7 linked regions of the Homo sapiens genome follow. The protein of the gene in region 7 purifies or fractionates together with the protein of the main gene of each other region. This does not show direct contact. Each region holds a gene or a part of one and is shown on either strand. Other genes may lie near its edges. The genes, in order: TPD52, TNN, TRNT1, RAB31, ANXA11, NDUFAF2 and ACOT13.

What was found.
Region 1: the proteins of ACOT13 (region 7) and TPD52 fractionate together in Homo sapiens (co-fractionation; one large-scale study listed by BioGRID). This does not show direct contact.
Region 2: the proteins of ACOT13 (region 7) and TNN fractionate together in Homo sapiens (co-fractionation; one large-scale study listed by BioGRID). This does not show direct contact.
Region 3: the proteins of ACOT13 (region 7) and TRNT1 fractionate together in Homo sapiens (co-fractionation; one large-scale study listed by BioGRID). This does not show direct contact.
Region 4: the proteins of ACOT13 (region 7) and RAB31 fractionate together in Homo sapiens (co-fractionation; one large-scale study listed by BioGRID). This does not show direct contact.
Region 5: the proteins of ACOT13 (region 7) and ANXA11 fractionate together in Homo sapiens (co-fractionation; one large-scale study listed by BioGRID). This does not show direct contact.
Region 6: the proteins of ACOT13 (region 7) and NDUFAF2 fractionate together in Homo sapiens (co-fractionation; one large-scale study listed by BioGRID). This does not show direct contact.

The regions. Positions count from the first base shown.
Region 1 is NC_000008.11:80,049,565-80,053,064, forward strand, and holds part of TPD52 (tumor protein D52), read right to left. Parts: intron 3,112-3,500; exon of another isoform or gene 3,042-3,111; intron 2,065-3,041; coding exon 1,963-2,064; intron 1,707-1,962; exon of another isoform or gene 1,688-1,706; intron 908-1,687; coding exon 881-907; intron 1-880. Other genes in the region: TPD52-MRPS28 protein, read right to left, coding at 1,963-2,064.
Region 2 is NC_000001.11:175,077,833-175,081,332, reverse strand, and holds part of TNN (tenascin-N precursor), read right to left. Parts: intron 2,001-3,500; coding exon 1,626-2,000; intron 1,171-1,625; coding exon 907-1,170; intron 1-906. UniProt on the Homo sapiens protein: Extracellular matrix protein that seems to be a ligand for ITGA8:ITGB1, ITGAV:ITGB1 and ITGA4:ITGB1. Involved in neurite outgrowth and cell migration in hippocampal explants.
Region 3 is NC_000003.12:3,125,529-3,129,739, reverse strand, and holds the start of TRNT1 (CCA tRNA nucleotidyltransferase 1, mitochondrial), read right to left. Parts: upstream 2,801-4,211; 5' UTR 2,750-2,800; exon of another isoform or gene 1,722-2,749; intron 727-1,721; 5' UTR 700-726; coding exon 552-699; intron 1-551. UniProt on the Homo sapiens protein: Nucleotidyltransferase that catalyzes the addition and repair of the essential 3'-terminal CCA sequence in tRNAs, which is necessary for the attachment of amino acids to the 3' terminus of tRNA molecules, using CTP and ATP as substrates. tRNA 3'-terminal CCA addition is required both for tRNA processing and repair.
Region 4 is NC_000018.10:9,809,301-9,812,800, forward strand, and holds part of RAB31 (ras-related protein Rab-31), read left to right. Parts: intron 1-3,500. UniProt on the Homo sapiens protein: The small GTPases Rab are key regulators of intracellular membrane trafficking, from the formation of transport vesicles to their fusion with membranes.
Region 5 is NC_000010.11:80,202,738-80,206,941, reverse strand, and holds the start of ANXA11 (annexin A11), read left to right. Parts: upstream 1-1,404; 5' UTR 1,405-1,599; intron 1,600-2,450; exon of another isoform or gene 2,451-2,703; intron 2,704-4,204. UniProt on the Homo sapiens protein: Binds specifically to calcyclin in a calcium-dependent manner. Required for midbody formation and completion of the terminal phase of cytokinesis.
Region 6 is NC_000005.10:60,943,934-60,948,004, reverse strand, and holds the start of NDUFAF2 (NADH dehydrogenase [ubiquinone] 1 alpha subcomplex assembly factor 2), read right to left. Parts: upstream 2,801-4,071; 5' UTR 2,750-2,800; coding exon 2,623-2,749; intron 1-2,622. Other genes in the region: ERCC8 (DNA excision repair protein ERCC-8), read left to right, coding at 2,997-3,073. UniProt on the Homo sapiens protein: Acts as a molecular chaperone for mitochondrial complex I assembly. Complex I functions in the transfer of electrons from NADH to the respiratory chain. The immediate electron acceptor for the enzyme is believed to be ubiquinone.
Region 7 is NC_000006.12:24,665,793-24,669,876, forward strand, and holds the start of ACOT13 (acyl-coenzyme A thioesterase 13), read left to right. Parts: upstream 1-1,284; 5' UTR 1,285-1,471; coding exon 1,472-1,552; intron 1,553-3,324; exon of another isoform or gene 3,325-4,084. Other genes in the region: TDP2 (tyrosyl-DNA phosphodiesterase 2), read right to left, coding at 734-819, 906-1,070. UniProt on the Homo sapiens protein: Catalyzes the hydrolysis of acyl-CoAs into free fatty acids and coenzyme A (CoASH), regulating their respective intracellular levels. Has acyl-CoA thioesterase activity towards medium (C12) and long-chain (C18) fatty acyl-CoA substrates.

The sequences.
Region 1 (3,500 bases), on a different chromosome or scaffold from region 7:
CCATGAGTGATTGCTTAAGAAAATAATCTGCATCCATAGGAACAGAGATGAAGACTACTATATCATCCTTCCTGCTTATACTCTAAAGACTTTCCTCCACCTTAGTTTCCTCCAACAACTAATCAGATAATCAAAGAGTCTGCCTGGGAAAGAGAAAGGTTTCCTCAACATCACAAAGTCTCTTTCTATAAGGCATGGTTTGAGCTAACATCTTTTTAATGTGCTTTTTTTAGCTTAATATTCTTTTCCCTTTTTCAAACCATGAAGTTGCCTTGTGTACATAAAGAATATAACAAGTGTAAAGAAAGAATAAAATCATAAAAACTATAAGCTAGTAAAACAAGTATTAAAAAGTGCAGAGTAGTGGCAGATTTTACCTTATGTATATTTTACCACAACAACAAAAAAAAAGGTAGAGTAACCAATAGAAGATGGAAGACTAACATCAGGAGGCAGTACATATGCAGTCTGTTACAATTGTGTAATGAAACCCAGGTGAAGAATTCCAACATCCTTACAAAAGTACCAAAGAAACAAAAGCATCAAAACAAACAAAGTCAGACATTAAAAGGGAGGAATTTTGCATGCCATGGTAAAGCTGCTTCTTTTTACCAAAGAAAAAAGTAAAAAAGAAATGTCAAAATCATTTCCATATCCCTTGAACCACAGTGTCAAATACTTCTTTTAATTTATCAACTACCCATGGTATACAAGAAACCCTCCCTTGAAATTAGGAATGCACTAGAGAAAAAGATACTCTAAACGCAAGAAAATTATGTACTGGACAAACACGATCATCCAACGTAGCATGGTAATCTAATCTCAGCACACTTTTCTTATACAACTGCTGGACTGCAGTGATGGTTCAAACTCTCCTTACCTAAAGGAATGTGAAAAGGCTTGCAATCTGTAAGAAGCCAGAGTAAGCATTAAAAAAGAAAGAAGTTCTGATAAATCTAAAACAATTAAATAACCTAAGTTTTAAACATATAATGTTTTCCCTGGGCTCTAAACTGCTACACAATTCAGTCAGCATAGAGAAAATGAACACCTAATAGATACATACATAATTGTCAAAAGAGTTCAAGAAAGCTATATTTATTACATTATGCTTAGACAATGACAGTCTAAATATAATGAGCGAGGAATTTGTTCTTTTGGTGTAAAGTATAACACATAAATTGACCAAATCTATTCAACCAAGAAATTCTGGTTGTAAGATATACACTTTCCCCACAAATGCAAAACACGAAGCCATGCAATCTGAGCATTTTTTTTTAAACACAAATCTTGCATGCCAACAGAAGCACAGCTGACTTAAACCACATTTGTCATTTTCATCACTATCCTAATCCACATGAGTGAAGGGGGGGCACAAAAGCACTGTGAAGTGGTTTTATAAAAATGGCAAGGAAAACTCTGCAGACTAATCTAAATGAAAAAAAAAAAAAGCAACAACTCAAAATCAAGATTTTGGCCTAAGCATGAACATAGTTACAGCTTACCAGTTAGAATAAAACAGTGCACAAATGAGCATGTTGTAATCACACCATGATATAAAATGTCACATATAGAACGTGAAGCCAAATCTGAATCGAAGCGTGCACTTCAGTGCTCCTGTAGTCATCCTTAGTAACACACCAGGCTCTGCCCACAATCACAAATTTGCAACCAAAGACATACTTACCCTGCATGATCATGAAGAACTAAAAAGACAAAGAAGTTCACAACCAGAATTTTTCAACAACCTTAAATGATCATCAGATGATCATTTGATGTTAGAATGCTAGGCCTAGAAGACCTTAGATGAGCCTTCCAGGTACTGGTTTGAAGGAGTGCCCTCCCTCACTCTAACAGGAGTAGCTAGCATCAACTAGAGCCAAGGTCAGGAAACAGATGCAACAACAATAACATTTTAATTTGCGTCAGCTACTTAATGAGCAAGGAAAAATGAGGACATACTTTACATCTTCCAGCTTTTTGGTGATGACTGAGCCAACAGACGAAAAAGCAGCTGAGGCCTTCTGTCCAGCCTGGGATAAGGTTTCAGATGTCTTCTTGTAACTATATTAAATTATAAACACACAGAGCAAAAGAAGGGTCAGCTCATCTTTTCTAATATCAATTGTTTCAAGTGCAGTGGTCACCACCTGCTGGAGAACTCTCAAAAAGAGAAAACATTTTTCAGAACTTCTAAAATCCTTCATAACCAGCAGAGCGGCATCACCACATCTTCGTATGCTCAACCCTAAGCTCAGGCACAATCTTCTGCAGTGCCCTAGTCCAGCCAGAAAGACAGAGTCCTATAAAGGCAGGGCCAAAGAAGTCAAGGTAAGGGCTAAAAATAATCATCAAACCAAGATGAAAATAAGCAAAGGCCTGAAAGAACTCATACCTATTGTTCTTTTCTCACATAATCCAAACAAAACAAAAATGAAATCAAATTCCTCAGATGCCTTTGTCAACTTGATTTCCTAAAAAAGGGCCAGAAGCAATTAGTAGCTGGCGTAAGTAGGACCCATTTGTATTTTATTATCCAAATACATTTTATGGGCATACTTTCTAAAAATTTTTGCATGTCTTTAGAGAGCTACCAAATACGGACATGATGGACTTTCAACAAAGTATGTAAAATATGCAATGCTTAAAATTATTCTAGTGTGGTATCTGCTATCACGCAAAGCTATAATTTACCACCTCCTTCCCAGCTACCTGGAGATTAGAGAAGAGAAAAGCAAAAACAAAAAAATGATGACAACAACAACAACAAAAAACAAAATAATATCGTACCTACCAAAACAATTCCCACATTATGGGAAAGAATGCTCAGGCATTTTTACTTACCCTGTCAAGATCAAATACCAATAAAAAAACATGGTTCATGGTAATACTGTTGAAAAAATAGTTTCCTGTATGTTTTCCCACTGCCAACTTAGATGGGTAGAAAATGGACCAAAAGACTGGGGACTCAAGTACTGTCATGTTAAATGCAGTTGGCCTCACTTCTGATAGTTAAATTGTAAAACAACTTCTGTGCTCACCAGCTCTGCAGATGGCTCTCAATACAGAAGACAGAGCAGTTCGGTTTCTGCTGCTAGAAGCTTGCTCCTCCTTGTGCCGGGAAACAAAACTGCATTATGATAATGCTATATCATAGCATGTGTGGTCAAAAAGACAAAAAGCCTAAGGGATTGACCTCTGCCAAGAGCATATATCTGAGACTACGACCTGAGAATCTTTTGATACCTACACAACAAGGTTAAAAAAATACATTAATAATAATAATAAAGACTGGCTCCAGACCTGAGTTTGAATTCCCACTCCACATTTTGAGAGGTTTGTGACATGAAAACTTAATTTGTCTGAGCCTGTTTCCTTATCCAGGGTTATCTTGCCACCCATTCTTACTGGGTTATTCTGAGTACTAAAGGACAAAATGTACATATTTGTGGCAAGTCAATACATAACACTTATGGGATTTGAATTTTATTTCTCCAACT
Region 2 (3,500 bases), on a different chromosome or scaffold from region 7:
TCCTTGAAGATCTAAGCTGCTTTAAGAATGTTCACGAGGAGACAAGAATGTTTAAAGAGTAAGCAGTGATGCTAATCCTTCTAAACATTTTGGTGGCATTTGCTGGTGCACAGGAGATTCTGTTTCTCCAGATCAAGCCTCCACCATCCTCCATCTTGTTCTGTACCCCAGGCTGTGATCTCTGTGAATTGAGTCTGCCTGTTTACCTGACCCTTTGGCTTCCAGGTTCAGCTAGCAGGAATCACCAGCAGATCAGAGGGCAGGAGACAGAATTCTTTGGAGACACGGTGGACTGCCTGCATCCCTCTACCAAAACAACCCTACCAGGCAGCTCTTTTCTACAGCTCTCTCTGGGTCCAAGTACCAACATCTATCCCTTGCCCCTTCAGGCAGGAGAGTATCCTTATTGATGCAGGTCTTAGTGTGTCACCATCCAACCCCTACCCACACCTTTGTGAACAATCTGTTAGTTAAACTTTGAAATTTCATTTACCCCATTTGTGTCCTGTCTTTCCCACGAAGATGAATCTAACTGATACAGGTGGCTTCAGCAGCCTCTCACCCATACCTATCTGAACTTTCTGAATGGCTTTGGGGGTTCAGTAAGAGACTGGGGATTCATGTCTACACTTTGACTGCTTATGAGAAGGTGCAGACCCAAATAATCTCAGGGACAGAGAAGACCCCATGAGCCCCCATCTAGCAGGTCTTCATGGGCTTGGAGAACCCAGTAATCAGGGAGCAAGGAAAGAAGAGAGAGAACTGGGACTCTTCAGAACCTAGGATTGTGGCAGGTGTGTTTTTCAAACCCCTAATCAAGGCAACTGCCTACAGGTGTTTAATGAAAGAAACCATTTAGAATGGGGCCTCTCCTGGGAACCCTGGGGCATCAGGTGGCTTCCTCACCTGTGGTGGCAAGTAGATGCTGTGGGCTGCTAGAAACTTCATTCTTGACGTTACGCAGGGTGACTATGTACTTGGTTCCAGGCAGCAAACCAAGAATCTCATAGCTGTGCTGCTCCTTGGGCACTTGGATCTGCTTCCCAGAGAGCTCCTTCCCCAGGGGGTAGTAGCTGAGGAGGTAGTGATCCACCTGGCTGGAGGGCTCCCAGCTCACCAGCAGAGAATCCTCCGTGTTCTTGAGCAGCTGCAGGCCCTGTGGGGTGACCACTGCAGGCAGAACAGGAACAGGGCAGAGAGGGTGAGCAAGGGAGGCGATCCAGACCCAGTGAGTATTCCCTGAGCACTATAAGGGTGGGTGTGCAGGATGCAGACCTGTGTAAGGCGCCATTCCCGACCCCTAGAAGTTATTATCCGAACGACAGGTAATTAATACTGACCCCCTCACCACACACACACACACACTCACACACAGCCATTAGATCACAAGACCAGTGGTCCTCAAGGTTAGGGCCTCTAACCAGCAGCATCAGCATCACCTGGGAACTTGTTAGAAATGCAAATTCTTAGGCCCCATCGCAGAATCAGAAACTCTGGGGTTGGGACTCAGCAATCTGGCGTAGGCTAAAGGAAGAGACCCCCAAAGATGACAACGTGTAATTGAGGGTTAAATGGTGCATTGGAAAGAAGAGTCCGGCGGCCCGAGGGCACATCTCCGCTCTCACCCTGGGCACAGTCCAGGCCTGTGAAGCCCTCCTCGCAGTAGCACTCGCCCGTGTCACAGAAGCCGTGGCCGCTGCAGTCGCCGGGACAGCGCTTCTCGCTGCAGTCCTCCGACATGAAGTCTTCGTGGCACTGGCACACGCCGCGCACGCACTCGCCGTGTCCGCTGCAGTTCTCAGGGCAGGCCGGGTAGCCGCAGTCGGCACCCACGTAGGGCTCATGGCACAGGCAGCGCCCGTCCACGCAACGCCCGTGGCCGCTGCACGCCCCGGGGCAGGCCAGCCGCTCGCAGGCGGGGCCCTCCCTGCCCTCTTCGCAGTGGCAGCTGCAGGTCTCCAGGGAGAAGGTCCCGTGGCCGCTGCAGTGGCGGCTTAGATCTGGGAGGGAGAGGAGAAACAGTAGGTTGGGTTGAAGGGTTGTGCGTGGGGATCTCCTTCCTCTGAGATCAGCCATGCAAGACCCAGAAATCATTAGCCCCACTCTTAAGGGTCTGGTGATTTCTGGGTCTTGCACGGCTATTTTTTGGAGGATGGTGGAGCTCCACAAGGGAGAAAAGGTGTTGGCCCTTTCCAGCCTGGGCCAGGCTTTCTAATCTGTGACATCTGCAAACGTCTCCTTCTTTCTCTGCCTGAAAAGGCTGCAGGACCCACCCTTCTTTCCTTTCCCTTCCCGTGTGAATTCCCCGGTTCCTTCCTCTCTACCTGGTGGTCATTATTTAGTGCCTTCCTATGGAGGGGCCTTAAATGCTCCACCCTGGCCAGCTGACACTGCAGGGCAGGACTCCTGGGGGGAAAGTGAGATCCAGGGAGGTTGGAGTTTGCTGGAACTAGCAAGGCTGGGACCTTGTGAAATGAGCCCAGATTGAAGTCTGGAAAAAACGGAACTGCAGAAGCTACAAAATAGCCTACTCTCAACTATGGGTACAGTGGAGAAGGGATTTAACCAGGCTCCCCTCTCTGACCCTACACAGCAAGAGGCAGCTGGAGGGCAGACTGGTTAGTGCAGTCTCCTCTGTGGCCCAGCTTCTGCTTTTCAGAACACCTTCTTTCCTTCCTAAAAACGCTTCCAAAGTGGGAGCTCCTCAGAAGCAAGTCCATGCTGGTTATTCATGGCAGTGTCCCTGGTGCCGAGTTCTGTATCTGGATCTGATGGTTAAGGTGCTCTTTACCATAGCAATTCCTTCAGGCATGAAATCCTATGCCAAAGTACTGTTCATTATCATTGGATCAGCCTGGGCAGTTTATGTTTAAAAGTGACGGGGTTGCGTTGGGGGAGAACCTTCATTATTTGTAAAATTAAATTGTAATTATTTTACAATTATAATTGTAATTTTTACTAATAAAATAATTATAATTTACTGATTTGTAAATTCCTCTAAGGGCCAGGAATCTTCTACACATCATCTCTAGTTCTCAGAACTATACTAGCTGATAGAATCATCCCTGTTGGACAGTTGAGGAAACATAAGGGATTTACCCAAAGTCACACAGCTAAAAAGTGGTAGAACTGGGATTTGTAACCTGTCTTGTCTAGCTCCAAGGCCCTATCTTTCCTGTGTATCCCATTGCTTCCTCTCTGAGTAGCGCTTTGATTCACAGGTATGACGGCTCCTGGAAGCATTCCCATCTGGAAGCAATAGGCCAGGAGTCTAGACTCTCTGCAAGAGCTGCTGGTCCCTCCCTGCTCAGCTTCCAGATGCCCCCTGGAGCTAGTACCAGTGAATAAATGAATAAATAGCAGGGATGGGCCCCCTAGAGAAAACCCAGAATGAGAAGTAGGAGCACACCAGAGTCACAAAGTGCTCATGAGGCTAGTGGAAACCCTGGCACATAATAGGTGCTCATCAAATGTTTGTTGAATGAATACCAGGTGGTGAG
Region 3 (4,211 bases), on a different chromosome or scaffold from region 7:
GCACCAGTCCTGTAATGAATGGCAAGTACTTAGCACAGCATACAGAAAAGCCATGCTTTTTACTGCAGTCAACTTCTTGCCTTTTCCAGTGATTTAGCTATATTTTTGGATCAGCCATATGTAAGCCTTTCTCTTTTAATATTCCTTTCTCTTTTTTTGAGACAGGGTCTCACTCTGTTGCCCAGGCTAGAGTGGCATGATCATAGCTCACTGCAGCCTCAAACTCCTGGGCTCAAACAATCCTCCTACCTTGGCCTCCCCAAGAGATTACAGGCTGGGTACACCCAGCCAAGCCTTTCTTCCAACAATGAAAACGTGCACATTGGGCACCGTGGCTCACACCTGTAATCCCAGCATTTTGGGAGGCCAAGGAGTGAGCCCAGGAGTTTTGAGACCAGCCTGGGCAACACAAAGAGACCCTCTACTTACGTTTTTTAATAAAAATAATTAAAACAACAATGAAAATATCCGAATGCTGGCTTAAAAAGTTAACCCTCTACTTCTCCATTTATATAGGTTTCCAATCAAGAAAAGGTATCCTAATCTCTCACCTGTCAGACTCTTCAGTCCTTCTGTGAAAAGTGACTGGAATTCGGGAGACTGCAACTTCATTGTGAATAGATACTGCTTCGGAAGGCACAGCCTACTCCACCTACGGTTCAGCACTGGCCTGTGCCAATGATACAGGCACCTCAGCATCTGGAGAGGCAGTCACCAACTACACATCTACAAGGCAAATACACAGGCATACCAATGAAATTAAAAGTGAAGGTAAGTGAAGGAAAACAAAGGGGGACACATTTCAAGTTTATCAACTCAGAAATTCATCTCTTGTTCAGATGAAAAAACTGAAAACGGTGTCAGTTTGAGGGATTACGACTAGGTCTATGTATCTACCTGGTTTTGTTCTCCAGAAGCACTTACTGTGGCAGGCGGGGTCTCACTAGCGCAGGCCTCCATAACTGTTTCAGTACTGACTGACTGGTTGAGTTACATATTAAAAGCTGAAAGAGCCAGCCAGTGCCCTTAAACAAGGCTAGAATGTAACAAAAGCCCCCCAAGAGTTTTGCCTAGGCCTTTCCTGGACCTTGAAGCATGATAAAATAACAAAGGAATTCTTTTTTTTTTTTTTTTTTTTTTTGAGATGGAGTCTCGCTCTGTCGCTCAGGCGGGAGTGCAGTGGCGCGATCTCAGCTCACTGCAACCCCTGCCTCCTGGGTTCAAGAGATTCTCCTGCCTCAGCATCCCAAGTAGCAGGGATTACAGGCGCACACCACCACATCCGGCTAATTTTTTATACTTCTGGGTAGAGACGGGGTTTTACCACGTTGGCCAGACTGCTCTCGAACTCCTGACCTCAAGTGATCTGCCCGCCTCAGCCTCCCAAAGTGCTGGGATTACAGGCGTGAGCCACTGAGCCCGGCCACAAAGGAATTCTTAACAGGACCCGTTTAGAATTAAACAAGTTTTACTGGGGATCTGAGGAAACTCCCCAGGCCTCCACGAACAAGTTTATTAGGGGTCTGAGGGAACTCCCCAAACCTCCATGATTTAGCAGGAGAGAATATAAGGGTAATCACCCCAGCACCTGGACCCATTTAGATTAAGTAAATTTACTCAGGCTCCAGAGGAAGGTCTTCAGGACTCAGATCTTATGGGTAAGAAGTTAATCACTTGTATCTTTAGATCAATGCACACTTACACATAAACATACAACTTACAAGGTATATAAGCTCTGGAAAGCTCTGTAATTCTGAGTCGGTCTGGGATATTTTCCACGCCTTCGCCCCGTACCTGGTTACAGAAATAAACTCCTTTCTTTCCTAGTTTATCTGCATCTCATTATTGGGCAGCGAGAATAAGCAGCCCAACCCTCGGTTTGGTGGTTTGGTCGGGGAGCATTACCACGACACTCGCATGCCACATGGTACTGTGATGACACTCTCCCCAGAGCAGGGCTTCAGGCAGTATGAGAGGGATGCGGGGTTCTAGAAACTCTAACCGAGTTTCTGGTCTCCAAAACTTGTCATGGTCACAGGTGGGTATCACCCTACTTCCCCACCTGCACTCGAGGATTCACGACCCTGGGATAGCTCCTAGACATTGTATTTTCCCATGAATTTAGTTTTGCTGCCCCCATTTTCCTGATTCTTTTCCTGCCATCTTGCAATCTCCTCTGATTTCTGGCACACCGCGGCCTTCCCTTCTACATATCACATCCTCGTTCTCCCCATACGGGGGTCCTGCCCATAAGGAGGCCGCAGCAGCTCTCGAGTGACCCCGGTGTAAACCTGCAGAGAAAAACCATTCCATTCCACGGAAGCGGGTGGAGGAGCCGCGCTTCCCGGCAGGCCACGTGGGGCGGAAAGACCCACTCAGTTTCCTCGCACCTCCGCCTCGACTTAGGAAAACGCTCTGGGGAACCCCAGCCCTGAAAAGGCGCGTCTCACCCCCCACGCCGGGTGCTGGCGACAAGGCCCAGTGAAAAAGCGTCTCGGGGCCGTCCGCGCGGAGGGGAAAGTGCTGAGGGAAGCCAAGGAATCCGCGCCTGCGGTCGCCGGAAACGTGGCGGGGACACGACCTCCGCGTCGGGGCTATTTTGCCCACTGCTGAGGAGGCCTCTCGCCACGTCCCGCTCCCGTCTTCCTCGAGGACCGGGCGCGGTGGCGCCTCTGGCCCACAGCAGGAAGGAAGGGGCAGCAACTCACGCCACCAACTCTGCCCCTCTGAGCGGCGCGCGCCCGCTTACCGGCCCCGCTGTTGCCGCAGCCGCCACCGCCGCCACGCGCACTTCCGGGCTGGTGAACGCGGTGACGTCACCAACGCACATGGGTTGGCGGCGAATGGGAAGTCGCGGCGGGGCGAGGGCGAGTGCGGGGGCGGGGCCCGGACCGAAGGGCTTCCGCCTCCCGTCGCTCCTCCCCACCGTGAGGCGAACCTCAGCCGGTTTCCCAGCCCCGCCGAGGCCCGCTGGGGCGAAGCGGAGCCCCGGGGGGCCCTGAGGAAACCGGCGCGGGTTCGTTTAATTACGCCCTTCTCGCCAGACCTCTGGCTGGCCCTGAGCTGCTCAGAAGCCCATCTGCGCGGCATGCCCGTGCGATCTGAGACAACTGGCAGCTGTCTTCCTTTGCAAAACGAGACTGTTAATAAAACCTACCCCAGGGTAGGACGGACTGTTCGGTAAATGTTAACTTATCCGTGTTTGACTATTCTCTCCTCTAATCTCTGCATAGGGTTAAGTCCACAGTTGACAGAGTCACGCGCATTCGAAATCTAAGCCCGCCGGTCCTATGAACTTACTGGGCATATTTTATTTTCTTACCTGGTTTGTGTAACCATTGGCCTCCTTGGCCCGGAGGCTTCCCATCTGTAACGTGGAGAACTTAGATTTGATCCAGTTCATTAATTCTTTCTAGAGCGGAAAAGAGCAAAGAGAGTGGCAAAGGAGTGGGAATACAGCCGTTGAGCCCTTAAAGTGCGAAAATGTGTAGTTTTTGTTTTGTTTTGTTTTTGAGACGGAGTTTCGCTCTTGTCGCCCAGGCTGGAGTGCGGTGGCGCGATCTGGGCTCGCTGCAACCTCCGCCTTCCGGTTTCAAGCGATGCTCCTGCCTCGGCCTCCCGAGTAGCTGGGATTACAGGTGTCTGCCACCACGCCCGGCTAATTTTTAGTAGAGACGGGGTTTTGCCGTGTTGGCCAACTGGTCTCGAACTCCTGACCTCGTGTTCCCCAGGCCTCGGCCCCCAAAAGTGCCGGGATTACTTTTGCCGGGATTCGGCCACTGCGCCCGGCCGAAAATGTGTAGTCTTTTAAGTGTAACTTTACATCACTTAGCTTTCCCTAAAATTTTCCTAGAAAAATGCTTGTGCATGTTATTTCTGTTCTTTTGCCCTCCCCACATGCCTACCTGTTCTTCCCAAACTTTTCAGCCCCACTCTCTGTAGACTTCCTAAAACGTAAAAAGTAAGATGTGCAATTACCACACCTCTTCAAGGTGTTGAATATCCTGTTTTTGGAAGCACAGGACTGGCTTTCCAAATGGACATTCAGAGGCACAGCATTGATATCATCCGGTGCAAGGATTTTCTGTCTCTCTCTCTCTTTGGGGCAAGGAAAGCCCCAAATCATCCTTTCAGGCTTGTCTGCTATTTCTCACCACCATGACCCTAGACAAACTGGACCAAAGCCTCCATTGCTGTACCCACCTAGAATA
Region 4 (3,500 bases), on a different chromosome or scaffold from region 7:
TCCAGTTCTCTTCACTTCCCCAAAGGTGATTCTTGATCACGCGAGGTCCCTAGATGTTAATAAATACTACTTGAAAAAAAGATTTTAAAAATGAATGGGAATTCTGAACTAAAACCAAAATAAATAGGTTTCTTTACTGTAGAAAATTTTCAGAGCCTTTAATGCACTAATTATGCTTTGTAAACCTCCAGGGAAGCATGTGGTGTTTCTCAAACTTATTTGGCCAGGAAACCTTTTTTCCTGGCCACCTCCACGTGGCCTGGTGTTCTGCAGAAGACCCTCAGGAAAATACCACACTAGGCTGTCTTGCCTCATGTGCCATTTAATATTTTACAAACACCTAAGTCTAATTGCTGCTGGATATTCCATCATATGGCTAAGCCAAAATTTATGTGTCCATTCTTTAATTGTTAGACATTGAGATTGCTTACAGTTTTTCAGCATCATTGATAATTTTCAAAGGAATTCTGGTTACTTTGTAACCATCTCTGATTATTCCCTTAAGAGGTGGAATTGTCAAATCAAAGTATCTGAACATTTGCAAGATTCTTGAAACACATTGTCCAGCTGCTTTCCAGAAAGGTCATGCTCGTTTATTTTCTACCAGCTGCGGGCAGGGTTAATGTCCATCTGCGAAAGCTGAGCAGCCGGAGAAGCTCCAAGAGCCTGAAGAAGGCCGTTCCCGTCTCCCCTGCCACAGGGACCTCCAGCAATTAGAAAACAAATAATCACACACACTAAGGACATAAACAGCTATTTCTTTTGAGGAGACACACTGGGTTTTCACAGTTCCCTGTGCCGTTTCTAAATAATTGAATGACATCTGAAAAATTTCTCAACATTTTAATTTGGTCTTCTAGATGTTTTGCTGGGTAGTCAGGGAAGAAGGGATTTTGAATTGGCATCTGTTGTGCTAATTTTCAAATAACCTTTCAAGGTAAGATGTAAAAATAAAGCTTTATCAGCCTCTTGTGACTGTGAACTTTATTTCCAGAAGAATCTTTTTATGTGAGCATTCCATCAGTCTTATTTCTGACCCCACAGGAATTGAATTATGTCATGTTGAGGACTGAGGCTGATTGTGGTGCTTTTGCTTTCTATTTGTAAGGGGGAAAAGCATAAACATTGTAGACTAGAAGTGATTTATCTTTTTGTCCTCCACCAAGATCACCCTTTGGTCAATGCATTATTGGGTTTTGGAACTGAGACGTGAACTTCTAACTCATTAAAACCCTCAAGTCCCCAGCAATAAAGTCATTTAAGTGGCTTCACCAACAGAGATTTATTTCAAAGCGATTCCATTTGGAGGAAGGAAAGAATGAGTAATGCATTATATACCAAGATCGCTTCAATAATTCATGAGACCTCCATGCCAGTGACCGTTTTAGATTCAGTTCATGGTGTTTTAGCCTAAAGTGAACTCTCTCTGTCTTAGAAGACACCCGCAGTTTGCTCCTCTTTGAGCTTGAGTCCATGAATATCTTTACTTTTGGGAAATAAAGTTTGTATTGACTGCTACTTTGTGCGTTTACATGAACCACTCTTATATGGAGGCTATTTTGAAAAAAATGGGCATTTTGTATAATTGGGGTAAAAGGATACTTAATCTGCGGTCCTTACCCTTTGAAAAGTAGGAATGTTTAAAAAAAATTATTGCTTTTTCCTTCCTTTGGGCAGGAATTCTGATTTTGTTTTTTAAGTGTAAGGAGTAGATTGCCAAATGGTGGGTTAAAAATAGATTTATGGATGCCTAATAATTATGCCAAACACAGTGTTGGGCCGTCAGTGAGTACGGAAAGGCATGCATGGCAAATGTCGCTGTCCCCAAGTGCGTTCTGGAATGGGGGCAGTGGGTGGCGCCGGCCCTTCAGCATCTTCGGCCACCGCACAGTTCAGCTGTGAACTCCTTGGTTCACCCTGAGCTTCGTCCAACCTTCTCCCTTTTCTGAAACCCGCAGAGGCTCCAGAGTCCTTTCTCTTCAGGATGGAGACCTGCATGGAGGGACTGGAGGCAGGGAGGGTGGCCCACTTCCTTTCCACACTATTGTGAGTGCCTCACCAGCATTCCTCAGTGCAGTAACAGGGAAACCTGGGGACTCAGATTTCCAAATACCATCATTTCAGTTTGGCAAGTATTGATCCAATGATGAGTATCGTGGGAAAGAAAATAATAAGTTAGGGTTTTGTCGCTTGCCAGAAAAGCTTCAGGATCCACTTCTCCTTCCTCCCTGCTCTCTCCCCACTGCCCAATAAAAACAGCTGCTTTGTTCAAAACTTAAAAACCATATTATTTAAAACTCATTGTAAAAATTTATGCTATACAGATGCTTGTAAGGAAAATGTAAAAATCGCTGGAAATCCCACCTGTTAAGATTTAGAGGAACCTCGTGTTATTCCTGCTCACAGAGACATACTCCCACATACATTTTACCCTACATTATATTATCATATAATGATAAATTAACCACATAATAAATGATAAATTATATGCTATATGTGCTGTTTTGAGACTATTTCTCATCTAACAGTATGTCAAAGATCTCTTTTCCTATAAATAAAAATCATCATTTTAATGGCTATAGAATATCATTACATACATATATGTATTAATCTGTGCACAAAATAACATAGACTGGGTGGCTTAAACAACACACGTTGATTTCTTACCATTTGGGAGCTGGGAAGTCCAAGATCAAGGTGCTGGCAGATTCAGTGCCTGTGAGGGCCCCCTTTCTGGTATGCAGATACTCGCCTTCTTGCTGTATCTCACATAGGGGCAGGGCAGGGAGAGAAGGGAGATCTGGTCTCCTTCTCTCCTTATAAGGGACTAATCCCATCTGTGACCTCATCTAACCCTAATTACCTCCTAAGGGCCCCACCTCCTAATACCGCCACGTTGGGAGTTAGGGTTTCAATACATGGATTTTAGGGGAGACACAAACATTCAGTTCATAACATTATACCATGAGTCAATTCCCATTTACTCCCATAAACAGCGCAGGGATGTGTCTTCCTGCGTGTGATGGTCACTCCAGTATATATTCCTCTAAGTGGAATTGCTGGGTCAAATGGGACACACATTTCAACTTTTGATTATATTACCAACAGTTGCTTTGAAAGAAGATATTCAGCACATTCCATGTAGAGTATGTGTGCCTCCCTTCCCAAACCCACACCAACACTGAACAGCACAAATCTTTTTACAATTTAATAATTTATAAGTGTCTCCTTATTTTTATTGGTGTTCTTCCGATTCTAATTGAACATGTTTTAAAATATTTGTTGGCAATGTATATGTCTTCTGTGATTTACCTTTATATATATCTTTGTCCATTTTTCTATTAAGCCATCTTTTTCTTATTGACTTTCAAAACCCCTCCAGGATACTATTTTTTTTTTTTTTTTTTTTTTTTTTGAGATAAAGTCTCACTCTGTCTTCCAGGCAGGAGTGCAGTTTTGCAATCTTAGCTCACTGCAACCTCTGCCTCCCGGGTTCTAGC
Region 5 (4,204 bases), on a different chromosome or scaffold from region 7:
TTGAACCCGGGAGGCGGAAGTTGCAGTGAGCCGAGATCGCGCCACTGCACTCCAGCCTGGGCGACAGATCGAGACTCCGTCTCAGAAAAAAAAAAAAAAAAAGGAAAATCGAACCAGCAGCTTGTTTGTAACAGCCAAACATAGGCAACAACCTAAATGTCCTTCAGTAAGGAGCTAGGTAATGAAGAATGGTGAAGCGCACGATGGCGCGCAGTGTGCAGTGGATGGGAAGAACCAGGTCTGTTCAGGAGCACTTGTATGGAAAGACCCTCCAAGATATAGTGAGTAAAAAAACATGTTGCAGAAAAGTACTGCAATATCGTTTTGTAAACAATACGTTTATGTAAACACACACACACAGTGTTAAAGAGAGATATTTGGAAGGACACACCTAAGAGTGGGCTGGGGGAGTGGAGGGAAGAGTGAATCTCAATTTTTACTCATTTTTTGAATTTTTTATTTTTAGTTTTTTAGAGACTGGGTCTCACTATGTTGCCCAGGCTAGTCTGGAAGCCCTGTCTTCAAGCCATCCTCCTGTCTTGGCCTTCCAAAGTGCTGAGATTACAGGCGTCAGCCACCACTCATTAAAAAAAAAAATTGTATACCTACCATATATGCATATATTACCTGGGTGACCTTTTAAAAATATGCTTTATTTTTAGAACATCTTTAGATTTACAGAAAAAGTGTGAATACAGGGAATTCTCATAAACCCGGGCTTTTCCTATTATTAACATCTTAAGTCATTTTTATATCTCCGTGGGTTCCTCTTGGCTGTGACAGTGTCCTAGACTTTCCTTGTTTTTGATGACCTTGCTAGTTTTCAGGAGTACTGGTCATGTATATGGCAAGGGCCTCAATTGATTTGTGATGTTTTCCTCATGATTACAGTGGGGTTAGGTGTTCTTGGGAGGAAGACCACAAGCGGTGCATGCAATCAGTATGATTTACCCCTGTCGAGGTCACCTTGACGGCTGGGTGGTTTGTCAGGTTTCTCCACGATAGTCACTGACCGCTCCCTTCCTCACATACTGTGCGTGACCTTCCCCCCTCCACCACCACCGAGTGTTGCTATAAAGGAAATGCGTTTGACCTTTTCAGTGTAAAAAGTTTTCTCGACCTTAAAGAGAGTCACTAACCGACGCACACGGGGCTGGAGAGGACTTAGGAAATGCCCACCCCTGCAGGAGGGCGAATGCGGCTCTGCGCGGCACTGGGCGCCGCAGGGGTTAGGGGCGGCAGAGGGACCTCCGGAGCCCGAGACTTCCTGGAGCAGCTCCGCAGCCGGAAGGCTGCTGCTCCTCGCGGGCCCGCCGTGCCCAGTCCTCATCTTGGGGGCGGGGCCGCGCTCAGGCCCCGCCCCTCCCTTGCACTGCCTCTGGCACCTGGGGCAGCCGCGCCCGCGGAGTTTTCCGCCCGGCGCTGACGGCTGCTGCGCCCGCGGCTCCCCAGTGCCCCGAGTGCCCCGCGGGCCCCGCGAGCGGGAGTGGGACCCAGCCCCTAGGCAGAACCCAGGCGCCGCGCCCGGGACGCCCGCGGAGAGAGCCACTCCCGCCCACGTCCCATTTCGCCCCTCGCGTCCGGAGTCCCCGTGGCCAGGTGAGTGAGGGTCCCGAGCCGGCTGGGGGCCTGGGACCAGGCGGCGGCAGTGCACCGCGGCGCCGCGGGTGAGGCCCGGGGCTGCCTGGCGCCCAGCCCAGCGCGGCCCTGCGGCTTCCTGGTTGCACTACAGGCGTGGGGGTGGGGGGCAGGGGAGGGCGTCGGCGGGTCGCGGGCGGGCCGTGTCGGCCTGGCAGCCCCCTAGATCAGCCTCGGCGTCTGGGGCTGCTCCCTCATGTGTGGTCGGGGTGCACTCGCCGTCCCCCCGGGCTCAGGGGTCGGGGTCTCAGTCTGGGCCTGGGTAGGGCCAGGGGCCGTGACCCTGGGCGCAGGAGGCAACGGGTGGCGGGAGGGGTGCCGGAGGCCCGGCCCCGCAGCCCTGCGGAGCCCTCCAGGGTGCGCGCGCCCTTCTAGGCGAGGCTTGGGGAGATTAAGCAGAGAAGGCTATCTTCAGGAACTTTCCTCCGAAACTGGGAGCACGCACATTCCTGGGAGCTGCTACCATTGCAGTTTATTTGTAAGGAACTCTCCCCAGTGTTTGAGGGAATGCGGGAGCCATCCCAGGTGCTGTGCGTGCCTTCGCCCCTTCCCCAACCTTGATCCCCAGTTTCAGGAAGGGATTCCTGGACTTGTATCTCCCATGGGTGCAGGCCAGGCCCTTAAGACTTAGGTAAAATGGTCTGTTGGTTTAAAGGAGACACGCGAAGTTTGTTACCTAGAGACTTTGGAGGGGAAAAGTTAAGCCAGCCAGTGCTAGCCCAAGCTGGAAACAGTCAGCCCGGGGCATTTCTGTCTCTGCCCTCCAATCCTTGACCTCTCTGTAGAGATTCGGCGTTTGTGGTAGCTCTCCCCTCTGTTCTCTGCGCTGGGCATGGAGTGGAGCTGTGAGGCCGAGCCCCTGCCCTGCCCTGCCCTGCCCTGCCCACGCAACAGGGACTAGGTTTGCAGGGCAGGGCCTGGTATGCTCACCCTTCACTGGCTCTCATTGCTTTCCTCATTCCTTTTATGCGGCAGTCAATTGTTGGGGATTCCAGGGGATTAACAGGGCCCCTTTCCTCAAGGCATTCTTTGTGCTGCAAGGTGTTCCCTGATAAGAGAGGCCAGGTGAGGTGCCAGGGCAGTTTGTTGCCCTGGCATTGGGTGCCCACTACTTCAGGCTCCTGCATACCTTGCTATCTTTTCTTTGACTATTGTCTGTGCTTTGGTTTTTCATCTGTAAAATGGGGGTAATAGTAATCCCTGCCTCACAGGCTTGTGAGATTCAGTGCATTCATTTATTTAATAACAATACAGAGCTCAGGTACGGACCAGTCAGAACAGGTGGTGACTGCTGCACCACACTTGTGTATCCCAGATGGGTGTCACCCACATTAGCCATAAAGTGTGTGAGGCAGGCCTGGGTCATAAATAATCAGGTGTAAGGGTCAATAAATAGTAGCAGTGGAAGGTTCAGCTAAAGTTGAAATGCACTTCTCCTGAACCGTCTTTCTGGCTTAGCTCATGCTAAGCTCATGCTCTCTGTCTTACTGGAATGCCCTCCCTCCCCTGTCTGGCCTAGCATTCTCCACCCTCCTGGGAGCCATCCGGGTGCCTGCTCCCAGCAGGAGGGACGGGATATGCTCTGAGCTCACTCAGCCCTTCTGGCACTGACTCGGTTCTCATCTCTCGCCTTGCATAGTATTTGTGTGGCGGTGTGGCTTATCGCTGCCCTGTCCTCTGACTCTGGAGGGTGGGGGCTGTTTCTGACTTACCTCTTGGTGGCAGCACTCAGGATGGGCCTTGCCTAATGTAGGTGCTCAGAAAATTAGTTGTCGTTAGTTGAACAACAGAGACAGCACAGGGAAGTGGTTTCCCTGTGGTTAAAATATAGGACCTTGAAGGCTGGGTTTGGATAGAGAAACGTGGGGAGGGTGAGATGGAGATGAATTGGGACTAAGAGGTGGGAGTGGAAGCCTCACCTGACGCCTTTATGCATGATACTATAGAAAGGGCCCACCCTGGGTGGATGTGTCTAGAAGGCCAGGATCGATTAGTGATGCCTAGTTCACGTGATTGGGGAGGTGATGTGTGGCTTGGGATGACAGGAGTGGGAGTTGAGACAGAATAGGTTAGTGTGGGTTCTTCTTGGAAATTGTAGAATAGAGAAAAGAAACTGGTGTGGGCAGGAGCTGAATGTGGAACCAAAATGCATGCTGAATGCTGGAACATCAGAGGTCCTGGGACCTTTCTGGTGCACCCCCTCCTTCCTCCTGGATTCACCCCTCTTCTTCTGCTGTCTTTTTTTTTTTTTTTTTTTTTGAGACAGATTTCGCCCTGTCACCCAGGCTGGAGTGCAGTGATGCAATCTTGGCTCACTGCAACCTCCGCTCCCTGGGTTTAAATGATTCTCCTCCCTTGGCCTCCCGAGTAGCTGGGATTACAGGCATGCACCACCATGCCCGGCTAATTTTTGTATTTTTAGTAGAGACGGGGCTTCACCATGTTGGCCAGGCTGGTCTTGAACTCCTGACCTCAGGTGATCTGCCTGCCTCAGTCTCCCAAAGTGCTGGGATTACAGGCATGAGTCACCGTGCCCGGCCTCCTCTCTCTTCTTAGCCACTGTTTT
Region 6 (4,071 bases), on a different chromosome or scaffold from region 7:
CAATTTTTTTTGTCAATTATACTTCAATAAAACTCTCAAAATGCAATTACAATTATGTAAGAAAATATACAAATTAGTGAGAATATGTAAAAATAAAATATTCATGTTATTGTAGAATAGACATGACTGTTAATTTGAAACTTTAATGGTATTGTATCTCTATATAAATGAATGATACAAAAACTGGTATAAATATATTTGTTTGTTGTTTTTTGGGCTTGTTTTTTTTTTTTTTTTTTGAGGTGGAGTCTCACTCTGTCACCCAGGCTGGAGTGCAGTGGTGTGATCTCGGCTCACTGCAACATCCGCCTCCCAGGTTCAAGTGATTTTCCTGCCTTAGCCTCCCGACTAGCTGGGATTACAGGCGCGTGCCACCATGCCCAGCTAATTTTTGTATTTTTAGTAGAGATGGGGTTTCACCATGTTGGCCAGGCTGGTCTGGAACTCCTGATCTCAGGTGATCCACCCACCTCGGCCTCCCAAAGTGGTGGGATTACAGGCATGAGCCACCGGACCCAGCCATAAATGGATTTTTTAATGGGCAAAAGGTTTGAACAATACTTCACCGAAGATCTGTAGATAGTAAATAAGCACATGAAAAGACTGTCAACATCCTCAGGCATTAGGAAAATGAAACTTAAAATCACAATGAGATACCACTATATACCTATCAAAATGGCTAAAATAAAAATAAAAACACACCCAAAAATCAGATAATACTAAGTGCTGGTGAGGGTGTGGAAACAACTAGAATTTTAATGCATTGCTGGCAGGAATACAAAATGGTACAGCCACTTTGAAAAACAGTTTGGTAGTTTCTCATAAAGTTAAACACACATTGATCACACAACTTAGTAATCCCACTACTAGATATTTACCCAAGAGATATGAAAACTTACGTTCACACAAATCCTGTATGGGAATGTTTGTAGAGCTTTTGTCACAATCACAGAAACTGGAAACATCCTAATGTCCTTCAGCTTGTGAACAGATAAACTGGCAAACCCATACAATGGAATACTACTGAGCAATAAAAAGGAACAACTACTGACACATGGATGAATCTCAGCTACATTATGCTATGTGAAGCAAGCCAGACTCAAAAGTCTAAATCCTGTATAATTCCATTTATATGATATTCTAGAAAAGACAAAACTATAGGCCCATAAAACACATCAGTAGTTGCCAAAGGGTGTGGGAATGAACTACTAAGGAGTTGGAGGAAATTCTGATGGTGATGGAATTATTCTATTACTTGAATCCAGTGAGGTTACTCTACTCATTTGTCAAAAACAATAAAACTGTACACCATAAAGGGTGAATGTTACTGTATGTAAATTATATTTCAATTTAAAAAAACTCAGTCTGACAGTTTGCATATTTTTAATTTTACTGACAACTTATGGAAAAGAAACATCTCTCTGCTTGCAACCTGTCAAGAAATACTTAACACCATGCTATGTTCTTTGCAGGCTTTTTTCTTTTTTTGTGAGACATATTCCCTGCCTGACAGAGGAGCTCATTAGGGAAACAAGTCTAAATATTAAAATAAGTTACAGAAAAAGGCCAGGCAAAAATAAATTAATTGAGTGATAAATCACAGAATACATTTTATATGTGTGGGAAATGAATGGCACATAATCTTGGAAAGGTCTTAGTGCTTCTCAACATTGCTGATCTTATATTATCTCTAACTTTCAAGTGAGGATGTTGAGACTTGGAGAGGACAAGTACTTTTTCCGTGATTCCCGAGCTATCAGGTGTCAAAGCTGAGATTCTAACCCACGCCTCTTCGCCCAAAACCTGACATTTTCTGCATGCGGCGATGGAACAACACAGAAGAGGTTACGACGGCGGCTACACAGTGTGATTTCAATGGACAGCAACGCCTCCTTACTCCCCAAACAACCCGCTCAACTACTTGGCACGAATCCTACACAGTAACACCATGATTATTGCCACGTTTCTTAAATTGAGCTCAACGGGGTCTTGGAATGTCAACTCCCGAGAAAGGAATCAGCGAGCCTTGTGGGGATATGGACCTACTTCTGACAAGTCTTGGTAGTAAGGAAGGCGCATGGGGCCAGCGCCGGAGCCAGGGTGCCACCGAAAAGGGTAAACACCAAGAAAGAAGACAGCCGAGGCGCTGAAGATACTCCTCTTCAATTACACCACTCAGCTCTGGGTCACAAGGCGGGGAACAGCGTACGAAAAACCCCTCCCCTGGCCCTTCTAGCCCCTTTGGTGAAAGATTTCCGTGGACTTTTCCCTGCCTCCGTCGCCAGTCCAGGGCTAAAACTGAGGCTCCTCTACAGGCGTGGCTGGGAGGAAAGTGGTGGTGCGCCTTAACAGCGCAAGCAGCCCGGGGCACGCCGGGGGAAGGCGCTGGGTAGTAGGGACCGCGGACGCACGAGGCCGGGCCAAGGCGCCCAGAGCCGGGCCGGGTAGGGCTCCGATGCCAGAGTGAAGGGGTCGACAGGGGAGAACGAACTCGGGAAATTCTCTCCGGTGACACCCTAAGTGTCGCATGATGCGTTAGTTGACTAGGGGCTCTCACTTTTCCCTCCTTTACTGACCTCGCAATCACTGACCACGCAATCGCTGCCCACGCCGCCACCTCACCTCTCCAGTTCTTGTACTGCGGGATGTAGTAGTATTTGTTCCCGAATTGGTCCGTGCCCACGTGCTCCTTCACTTCCCTTGACAGCGATCTCCACAAGGCGCGGAACAAATCCTGAGACCAACCCATGCCGTCCACCCAGTTTCCAGCGCTGCCAGCAGCGGGACCCGCAGTAGGGGTAATGCTCCAGCCGCCGACCCAGCCCACCGAGGCGGAGAAGTCAGGTCGGCCTCCATCCTGGAGCCCTTCTAGTAACGGCGCTCACCATTGGCCGGATATATCACCGACTGACCAATGGGAGACTCTGCTGTTCCAGTCCCGCCCCTGAGCTCTGTCATGGCGACGTCCAGTGCTCCAGCCGGTGTGAGGACACGATATGCTGGGGTTTTTGTCCGCACGCCAAACGGGTTTGGAGGACCCTCTTCGCCTTCGGAGAGCAGAGTCAACACGGAGGTAAAGAAAACCTTACTTTTTGGCTAACAGGCCAGTTAGAATCTGGACCAATGACTGTAAGCTTTGCCCCACACTTTCCCGTCTCATCGCTCTCCTGCCACCAAACTATTATTTGCCCTCTAATGCTGTGTGGCTTGCTAAAATAGGATCCCTTTTATTTACTGGTAACAACTTGCAGGCGGGGGGCGGCGGGGGTGGGGGGGGTTCCCCGGGGGTGGGGGGGGGGTTCCCCCGCGGGCTCAGGTGAAGACACTATAAACCTAAATAAGAATACTTCGTTGTACTGTATTCCTTCTCTCTTAAGTTACTCCAAAGAATAACTGCCCTCCACGGACTCGTTCATTCATTCAGTCTGCATATTTAGTGAATTCCTACAGTGTGCCAGGCAGCCTATTAAAGGCAGAGGACACAGGCCAGGAATTGAACAAAGTTCAGAATGACTAGAGCGGAGAATTGGGGTAGGGACCATTGACAAGAGATGAAGTAGACAGAAACTAGATGAGGAAGAGCCTTGTGTACTTGAGTAGAGGTGTGAAGATGAGAATAAGGTAACAGCTATTGCATTTTGTTTTCTGCTTGGAGAATGGGTTGCAACTGAGAACAAGAGTGGGAGCCAAGTTAGGTAACTGTTGTGATTACACTTGTCCGGGAGAGAGTTGTTGGAAGCCTGGGCCACAGAGTTGCCAAGTAGAATAAAGATAGTGGAGAGATTTGAACAACGTCTGAGAAATAGAATCAACAGGCCATGGAAATTGAGTGGATACGTGAATGACAAAAAGAGAAGAATGAATAATGATTCCCAGATCTATGCCTTGTATAAGAAGTTGAATGTTGGTAATATACTCTGAGAGAGGGTTTTCCAAAGGGAAGAAGCAAGTTGTACTTTTAATTTTGCCCACATTAATTGAGGAACCTGTGAAGATATTTACTTGGAGAACACAGTTGCTTATGAGTTCTGCGTTCTGGAGAAATTTAAATATTAGTTTCCAACATTTTAT
Region 7 (4,084 bases):
AGGACATCAGGAAAAGCTTCCTAGAGATAAATCATGTCTCAGCTTGGGGCTTTAAGACAAATATTAGCAAGGAAGGGAAAAGAAAAAAATTCCAGGCACAGGTAATAAAGATCTTTACGAAGTTTCAAAGACAGGAGAAAATGACCCGTTGGAAAAAAGTAAAAGTTTGATAGGCCTGGAACCTGGAAAGGCAGGTTCTAAGTTATGGAGCCAAATAGTAGAGGGCCTTGTAAGGCAGCTACACTTTTTAAGTGCAGGAACTGGAGAGGGGCACTGAAATAACAGGAGTAGGTGTGCATTAAAAAAAAATAACAACAACAACAAACCTGTTATTCTGGCCGGTCAGCCTAGGGCCTAGAATAAATAAACAATACAGGAAGCAAGGAGACTTCCAAGTTGCCATTTTTCGATAGAAGGTTTAGCCTTCGTTCATTTGTTTCAAACCTCTCGCTTACTTATTTCCTTTCATTTGAGTTAAACATTACATTTCCATCTTTTCCTCCCTGGACCCCAAATCACGTTCGAAGCGACAGTCTGGTGCAGTGTTAGATCCGCTGCTGGGGCGCAACTCCGCGCAGCAGCAGCAACGCAAGCCCTGCTCCTCTGGCTACGCAGCTTGGAGATCTGCCTCAGCATCGTCCGCCCAGCTCCACGGCAGGTCCCAGGACGCGCAGGGCTACCTGGTATCAAACTGCCTCCGTGCGGACTGGCTCCCGCTCCCCTCATCACTTACTAGGTCTTGGGCTCAGAGATGGTTTCAGGTCGGCGTTCCAAGGCGCTCTCCTCCACCGGAGGCTCGAAGTAGGAGTTCAGAGCCCTCTGAAAAACAAAGGCACAAGGGATGAGGTTTGTGCGCTCCACCGACCTAGGTAATGGAGCCGGAAGCGAGGACAGCGAAAGCGTACTTCCATCTCCCAGTCGTTCTCGGCCAGGAAGCACTGAGCCACTGCGGCATCGCAGCTTGCGACCGAGGCAAACTCCACACACAGAAGTCGCCGCTTTTTCACCTCAGGCTCGCCCTCTTCCTCCGCCGCCTCCCTCCCGCCCTCCAGGCAACTCCCCAACTCCATCTTCCTGCCGCCTCTGCACCGCCCCTTTAAGCGGAACAGGAGGCCAACGCGCGGCTCTGCGCAGGCGCCTGTGTCATGGCGCTCCCGCATCAACCGCCCGGCGGGGAAATGCGCTGCTCTCGGAAAACTGGTGCAGCTGCGCCGCAAGGGAGCCGCCGGGGCGGTGGGTGCGAAGCGCGCATGCGCGCTTCGTCACAAGGGTGCGAGGAAAGTCAGTGAGCAAATCGCGGACCACCGGGGCTGCCAGCTCGCCTGACTCCCGGCCTCTTGCGCTCCTAGGGGCGGAGAAGGGTGCGGGCTCTTCGCCCTTTGTGTCCTCCTTCTTTCACTAACTTCTGGACTTTCCAGCTCTTCCGAAGTTCGTTCTTGCGCAAAGCCCAAAGGCTGGAAAACCGTCCACGATGACCAGCATGACTCAGTCTCTGCGGGAGGTGATAAAGGCCATGACCAAGGCTCGCAATTTTGAGAGAGTTTTGGGAAAGGTATGGGAAAGGTAGGGGAGAAGCCGTGGCTTCTAATGAAGGAAAAGAAAGCACCGTGCTTGGTGCCGTTGTGAGCTTTGAATAATTATCTCTTGTTAGGTTGTGTTCTAGTACGCCTGTAAATTCACCTTAGTAATAATGATTATTACTTTAATGGAGCCCCTAAATATGCTGGGTCGAACGCGTAAGTTCTCTATCTAAACATAGATAAGTATGGTTATGACTCGTGGAGACAGTTCCAAGGCTGGGAGGGACTTTGGAGTTTGATCCTTCAACCAACAAACGTCTGCATTGCTCCAGAGAAGAGTAAGAGAAACCTCTGCATTTAAGGCACATTACAGTCTAATTCTCTAGGCTCTAGAAGATTAGAAGATAAATAATTGCAATAAGGTACAAAAGCCAAGTGCTTGGTAGAGTGGTGAACGAAGGGAGAAGTTGTTCCTCTGTAGTGGTTTGGGAAATTTCTCAAAGGCACCCAACTCCTGAAGAAGTAAGTTAGCCCTTGGAGGAAGACTGAGTGCTTTTCTGAGACCAGCACTCACAAAGCCCGAAGGTGTTTGTTTGTTTTTGTTTTTTTAGGATGAGGTTTCGCCCTTGTTGCCTAGGCTGGAGTGCAATGGCGCGATCTCGGCTCACTGCAACCTCCACCTCCCTGGTTCAAACAATTCTCCTGCCTCACTCAGCCTCCCGAGTGGCTGGGATTACAGGCATGCGCCACCATGCCCAGCTAATATTGTACTTTTAGTAGAGACAGGGTTTCTCCATGTTGGTCAGGCTGCTCTCGAACTCCCGACCTCAGGTGAAACGCCTGCCTCCGCCTCCCAAAGTGCTGGGATTACTGGTGTGAGCCGCCACGCCAGACCTTGAAGGTGTTTGTTGTTGTTGTTGTTTTGAGATGGAGTCTTGCTCTGTTGCCCATGCGGGAGTGCAGTGACACGATCTCGGCTCACTGCAACCTCCGCCTCCTGGGTTCAAGTGATTCTCATGCCTCAGCCTTCCAAGTAGCTGGGATGATTACAGGCATGCGCCACCAAGCCTGGCTAATTCTTTATTTTTATTAGAGACAGGGTTTCATCATGTTGGTCAGGCTGGTCTCAAACTGCTGACCTCAGGTGATCCACCTGCCTTGGCCTCCCGAAGTGCTGGGATTACAGGCATGAGCCACCATGCCCCGCCAAAAGCAGGGATTTACTGAAAATGAAAGGACACTCCTGTGTTTGGGGTGTGGAGCAGCAGCTCAGGGGCCCTAATACCCCATTGAAGTCTCCTATTGGCCACTTGGTACTCATCTCATGTAAATGAAGTGGTGACCCACAATTGGCTGTGAAAAGCAACCAATGAAAGGCTAAAGTGAAGTTACAAAGTTGCCCTTATATGCAAACGAAGACGTGGCGTGCAATCAGATGGTGAAGTTACATAGTTACACTCCTATGGGAAGATCTGATTGGTTGCAGAAAGAATAATTTTTTTTAAGGGATAACTTACTTCTTAGCGTAATTTTGCTTTTTGCAACCAATCAGAGGTACTTTCAATTTCCCATCTGCCACACAGAAAAGGTGGGGGTTTGGAAAGGGAGAAGCCTCTGGTTCTTTTGTTACTTGGTGTGGGAAGTTAGGGTTTTACTTTCAATTTAGTTCTAGGAAGTCAGCGTGAAACAGCCCTAGGTTCCCTGCCTCCAGATCCGATTCTCCTGCCTCGCTTGTAAGAAAATCATGCTCCATAAGAAGCATTTATAACTAAACCTTGTGAACCCCAAAAATTTGAGACAGGTATCAGTTAATTTAGAAAGTTTATTTTGCCAAGGTTGAGGATGCGCACGCAGTGACACAGCCTCAGGAGGTCCTGACAACATGTGCCCAAGGTGGTCAGAGCACAGCTTGGTTTTATGCGTTTTAGGGACATATAAGACATCAATCAATATATGTAAAATGAACACTGGTTGGGTTCGGAAAGGCGGGACAACTTGAAGCGGGAAGGGGGCTTCCAGGTCACGGGTAGGTGGGAGACAAATGGTTGCATTCTTTTGAGTTTCTGATTTACCTTTCCTAAGGAGGCAGTCAGATACACATTTATCTCAATGAGCAGAGGGATGACTTTGAATAGAATGGGAGGCAAGTTTGTCTTAAGTAGTTCCTAGCTTGAATTTTCCTTTTAACTTAGTGATTTGGGGGCCCAAGATATTTTCCTTTACATTTGCCCCCTTTTCTTTTTTTTAAAAAAAATTTTTTTTTGGAGAAAGCATTTTAGAAGAAAAATGAGTCTTTGGTCCCAGATTTCATCTGATCGCTCATGCTAGGATGGTTTATTCCTAGACAGGTAAGTCCCAAGTTATTAGGAAAGCTAATTTTTAGAAGGCTGTGAACTCCCATGTCTTGTGAAGAGAAAATAGGGGGAGGAAGGGTGAAAAACAACAAACAAAAGAACAATCCTGGAAAATATACATAGGCCACGTTATTCTGAAGTCCATACATCAGTAGGCAGGTATGAAAGTGGCTTATGCGTGTAAATAGGTTGCTGTTATTTTCTTCTGAA